Regions from separate parts of the Homo sapiens genome. Here region 1 is linked to region 2. The links come from fine-mapping of genetic effects on gene expression. A gene starts in region 2. The other region holds a variant in brackets. All regions are shown on one strand. Distances are from middle to middle.

Region 1 (2,899 bases), 50 kb after region 2:
TGGCCCAGCACCACCGTCTCTGACTGTCCTGTGAGCTCTCTGACCTTCTGGCTCTGCTGCCTGCCATCTGCTGGGCCTAGGGAGTTCCTTAGTCTCGCAGGTAGGGGTGGGGTCTCCAGTGTTTCCAGGTCCGACCCCACTCTCAAGCTCCTGTCCTGATCCAGGCTTTCTGCAGGCTACCTGCCACCAGGGCCCAGCTGGCCCCCTGCTCAGCCTCCACACTCCTCCCCTCCCTTCTGAAAAACTGCACCCTGCCCAGCCCCTGCCCCACCCCTGCCCCGGAAGCTCTAGGTCTCTCCCCTCCCACCTCCCTATCCTGTGCCCTTCTTGTTGGTGTCCCATTGAGATGTCCCTGGCCTCCATCTTATCTACCCTCCCCCAGGCCCAGGCCCAGGACCTCCCTGCCTGGGGTCCCCCTGCTCCCTGCTCCAACACCTGCTTTCATTCACTGTCCATATCATTCCCTAGCTAGCCTTCCCCCAATATGTTTTTATTTTTTATTTTTTTTTTATTTTTGAGATGGAGTCTCCCTCTGTTGCCCAGCCTGGAGTGCAGAGGTGCGATCTCAGTTCACCACAACCTCTGCCTCCCGGGTTCAAGTGATTCTCCTGCCTCAGCCTCCCGAGTAGCTGAGACTACAGGCGCGCACCACCATGCCCGGCTAATTTTTGTATTTTTAGGAGAGACGCGGTTTCACTATGTTGGCCATGCTGGTCTCGAACTCCTCACCTCGTGATCCACCTGCCTCGGGCTCCCAAAGTGCTGGGATCACAGGCGGGAGCCGCCGCGCCCGGCCGTGTTTTTATTTTTTTAACATCATGCCCTGCATGGACTATGGCTGCCCGCTGCCCATCAAACTGAGTCGGCATCTCAGTCTGGCATCCAAAGTCCATCTCTGGCTGGGCGTGGTGGCTCACGCCTATAATCCCAGCACTTTGGGAGGCTGAGGTGGCAGGATCACTTGAGGTCAGGAGTTTGAGACCAGCCCGGCCAACATGGTGAAACCCCGTCTCTACTAAAAATATAAAAATTAGCCAGGTGTGGTGGCGCATGCCTGTAGTCCCAGCTACTTGGGAGGCTGAGGCAGGAGAATTGCTTGAACCTGGGAGGAGGAGGTTGCAGTGAGCCGAGATCACACCCAGCCTGGGCGACAAGAGTGAATCTCCATCTCAAAAACAAAAACAAAACGAAGTCCATCTCCCAACTCCCTGCACTCACAGGGCTTCTCCCACAAGGCTAGGTCAGCCTGGGACACATCATGCATGTGCCTGCCGTCTGGGCCATGCCACGCCACACCACGCCACGCCACGCCACACCATGCATGCCTGGGGGTGGGTGCCACAGTTACTGCCAACTTGTACTTCCCCAAAGCCTGTGGGAGATAACTGGAAATGATGTTCAGGTGGGGCCAGGGCCCCCTTCCCAGTCTGGTCTCTGGTGACCACTCCTTCCTCACCCACTTTCCTTCTGGGGTACCCATGAGCTGCTGGCACCCAGTGCCTCTCTCCACTGGTGGTAAGTCCCAAGTTTACCAGCGACTGGGCTCGGAGGTCACATATCTCCCAAGGCTCTGGGGGCAGAGCTTGCCACTCTCATCCTCCCCATGGCATCATTAGGAGACCTAGCCCTCCAGCCAGTGTCCTCTGGGAAGGTCCCAGGAGACAC[C/T]GGTGGGAACAGACCCCAGGAAATACTCTGCCTCCTGCCCCTGAGTGGGGAGCTTCCCTTTTTGACTTGGCCTCTAGGGAGCTCGGGGCCACGTGGGCCACATTCACAGGGGCTCTCTGAGGCGGGTCTCAACATAGCCCTGATTTCCACATTGGGTGCCTAGTAACAGCCGGGGTCTTTGTGCTAAGCTGCCTCTGGTCCCTTGTGTAAAAAAGTGCAGGATTAATCACAAAGGGAGTGATTATTCCCTAAGGAAAAATCGTATCTAAGGCACATCCTGGTCCCACCAGGAACACTACCTTGAGGGCATCCAAGATCCTGCCATCATAGTCGATCACCACTGTGTCTCCCTGCTCGCCCTTGAGGCCTGGGGCACCCTGAGGCAGGAAGAAGAGTAAGAATTTCAGGGAAGAGCTACACTGAGTTGGAGGTGAAGTGGCAGCTGTCCCTGCATCACATCCAGAGAGAAAGCAATGGAAGAGCCTCGTCACCCAGGCTGCACGCATGCCCCTCCCCAGGGTGGATGGAGGGAACGGGAGGCAGGCCCTGTGGCCAGCTGAGAGACCTGTTTCCACCTGGTCTGAGGGGCGGCTGTAATTGCCCTCACGTGGGCATTCAGGCCTGACCCCTGAGTTCTCGGGGGCAAATGGAAAGCCTGATTTTGATGTGACGCTCTTCAGATTTTTCAATGTTGGCAACAAACAGAAAAGCCCCAAACCCTCCAAAACACAAAGACATGAGCAGGCTGGATCTGGCCCCCGTGCCTCCATTTCCCAGCCTCTGGGAGCGGCTGCACACGCCAAGCACCCACACGCCTATTCCCGCCTGGTTACAGGTGCATGTCAGCATGCCCATGTCCATATGCTGCACACTCATTGTGCACACTCACACGTGCACGCATGGCTGCTGGCCAGCCCTTCCCTTGTGAACCTCACTTCCCCACCCAGGCTGCTCTTTGCTTGGGGTACAGTGAAGGCTGGGGAGCACTTTGGTCCAGACCCGAGCCTATCCCTTGTGCAGGCTGGAGACCCTTGCTTGGGCCTCATTTGCCAGCCCTCCCCCGTCCCCAGTCACAGCCTGCCCAGAACTGCCTGGCTCACTGGCTGCCTAATCCAACCCCCTCCCGCTCCCCACCACCTGCACAGCCAGGCGGGGGCTCAGATCCATTTTTTTTGGAGGAAGAAGCCAGCCTCTGGGAGCATGAGGAGACAGAGCCGAGGCCAGGATCCCGGAC
Region 2 (2,899 bases):
AGATACAGAAGAGAAAATGGAATGCCCAGCCCACCACACTGGTCCTGGCTGCAGGAATCCACTGGAAACGCTAGTTCCTTGTGTTCTGGGTTGCTATTTGGTAACCTGCAGGCTCCAGAGGTTGTAATCCTGCTTGCCTTGGGGCCCACCACCCATATGATTAAAAGGAATAACGGGATTACCGAGGCCTTTAAAATTTTGTGGTCAAGGAGATAATATAAAGGAGTTTTGTGTATTAGGAAGAGAACAACGCCCCCACCCTGTCCTTTACCTCGTGAGTTCACGAGTGGTGTATTTGTTTTGTTTTGTTTTTGAGACGATGTCTCGCTCTGTCGCCCAGGCTGGAGTGCAGTGGCGAGATCTCGGCTCACTGCAAGCTCCGCCTCCCGGGTTCACGCCATTCTCCTGCCTCAGCCTCCCGGTAACTGGGACTACAGGCGCCCACCACCACGCCCGGCTAATTTTTTTGTATTTTTAGTAGAGACGGGGTTTCACCATGTTCGCCAGGATGGTCTCGATCTCCTGACCTCGTGATCCGCCCGCCTGGACCTCCCAAAGTGCTGGGAGTACAGGCGGGAGCCACCGCGCCCGGCCTCCGTATTTGTTTAAAAAAAAAAAAAAAAAAAAAAAGGCCGGGCGCGGTGGCTCACGCCTGTAATCCCAGTACTTTGGGAGGCCCAGGCGGGCGGATCACGAGGTCAGGAGATCGAGACCATCCTGGCCAACATGGTGAAACCCCGTCTCTACTAAAAAAACAAAAAAATTAGCCGGGCGTGGTGGCGCATGCCTGTAATCCCAGCTACTCGGGAGGCTGAGACAGGAGAATCGCTTGAACCCGGGAGGCGGAGGTTGCGGTGAGCCGAGATCGCGCCATTGCACTCCAGTCTGGGCGACAAGAGCAAGACTCCATCAAAAAAAAAAAAATAATAAAAAGGAAGAAAAAGAAAGACAAATGATTTACAGGAAAAAATTTAAGTAAACAAAAGTACAAATGCGATGTCAATCGTTCAGGTGGTGCCAGGGGACAGAGAACCGGGGAACACCAAGGTCTCATCGTCCCTGCAGAGCATCTCTGGGGGAGGCGACGGACAGGGCGCGAGCGCGGGGCTTGGAGGGCACCAAGGTCCAGGGGGATGGCGGGTTCAGTCCCAATCCCTCCGACCCGTGCTGAGGGCCTTGGAGGACCCCACTCGCCCAACCTCGGAAGCCCGGGTTCTGCCACTTCCAGCCACGCGTCCTTGGGCTGCGAAACTTTCTCCAGCCCAGTTTCCTCTTTTGGGACATGGGGAGGCGGAGGCTGCCAATGCTGGGATGGAGTCCTCGAGAGCAAGAGACCAGCGGCCTCGACGAGCTTACAATCCGATTAGGCCCTCCCACCGATGTGCTGTAGCTGCCCGCCGCCCTGGACCCGGCGCCGTCCCGCCCGGCTTCGGGAGCCCTCCGTAGCGGCCGGACTCGCGCGCGTTCTAAAATGAGGACAAAGCCCGCCCAGGTCTAGAGCGCGCGCGCCGTGGCGGCCAATGGGACGCTGAAGCTAGGTTGAGTGACGGACTTGAGCAGCCAATGAGTGTGCAGTTTGTTGCGATGTGGCACCCGGCTCCGGCATTATAAAGGGCGCCACGAGTCGGCATTGTCAGGCGGCGGCACCGCGCGGGACGGAGCTTGGCTGTTGGTCGGTGGGTTCCCGTGCGGCGGCGGCCAAGGAGGAGGAGACACAGTTGGAGCAGCTCCGTGGGCTGACTGGGGCGAGGCCTCAGCAGCGCGAGCTTGAGTGCGGCCGAGCCTGCGGCGCCTTCCCCTGCGGGTGGGGACGAGCGGGCCCCGCGGCGTCATCGGCGGCGAGGTGAGCGGCGGCCGGCGGGCGGGAGCTCTGGCGGGAGCCGCGCCGGCCTGACGCGCTGTCGCCGCTGGTTGCAGGAGCCGCCGCGCCTCGGCCTAGCATGTCGGAAGCGGGCGAGGAGCAGCCCATGGAGACGACGGGCGCCACCGAGAACGGACATGAGGCCGTCCCCGAAGGCGAGTCGCCGGCCGGGGCTGGCACGGGCGCCGCGGCGGGGGCTGGAGGCGCGACCGCGGCGCCCCCGAGCGGGAATCAGAACGGCGCCGAGGGCGACCAGATCAACGCCAGCAAGAACGAGGAGGACGCGGGGTAGGTGCGGCCGCGGGCGGACGGGGGCGCCGCCTTTGTTCCGGGGCCGCCTTTTGTTGGCGCCACGCGGCGGGGGGAGGGGCGGCGGCCTGGCCCGGGTCGGGGCTGGTGCGGCCCGCGGACTGTCGCCGCTGCGTTCGCGGGCCGGGCCTGGCGCTGCCACTCGCGCTGGAGTTTGCGGGAGTTTGTTGGGTCGACTTTGGCGCCGCCCCGGGGCCGCTCGCGCGCTGCCAGGGCCAGGGCCAGGGCCGGAGCCGGCGCAGGGGCGGGCGGATGGCCCGGAAGAGGGAAAGCGCTCGGACCCGGGGCCCGGCGGCGTCTTGGGCCGCGCCGGCGGCTGCGTGGGCGGAGTTGGCGCGAGCCGGGGCCCGGACCTCCCTCCTCCGCCTCTCCCGGGGGCGGAGTCACGGTCTGAACCCTGGGCGGGCTTGGTCCCCGGAAACATCGAGTTCCTTGAAACGAGTTCTCAGGAGTTGGTGGAGACGCTGGCCCTTTGCTACATGGTTGTAGAACACATGAATTTCCAGTTATGAGTGGTTAGGTCCCATACCCCTGGTGAGGTGGTCCCTTCTTTGCTTCTCACAGGCTGGGGCTGCAGAGCCTTGTTAAGCCTCGTTAGGGTCCTGGTTGAGTTCAATTTGGAGGGTAGTGGAGATTTAACATCTTTCTAAGGTGCTCCTTGCAGACTCTAAGGGTAGCTGTAGACTTCGTGAGAACTTTGCCAGGGCCAGTCCTTTCCAAAATCACAGC

What was found. PIP is the estimated chance that this variant, and not a neighbour inherited with it, causes the effect.
Region 1: its variant is fine-mapped to the expression of HNRNPAB in whole blood (TOPMed, PIP above 0.99).

Annotation. Positions count from the first base shown.
Region 1 is chr5:178,252,985-178,255,883 of GRCh38, forward strand. It overlaps COL23A1 (collagen type XXIII alpha 1 chain), which reads right to left. Exons shown (of 29, transcript NM_173465.4): 16 at 1,965-2,042. Among named protein-coding and RNA genes, the nearest start is that of PHYKPL, 22 kb to the left of the region's middle. The variant C/T (reference allele first, on the strand shown) is at 1,666.
Region 2 is chr5:178,202,898-178,205,796 of GRCh38, forward strand. HNRNPAB (heterogeneous nuclear ribonucleoprotein A/B) reads left to right here and starts at 1,636. Exons shown (of 8, transcript NM_031266.3): 1 at 1,636-1,843; 2 at 1,918-2,149. The coding sequence starts at 1,941. RefSeq lists silencers at 1,450-1,519, 1,820-2,039, 2,060-2,169, 2,200-2,609.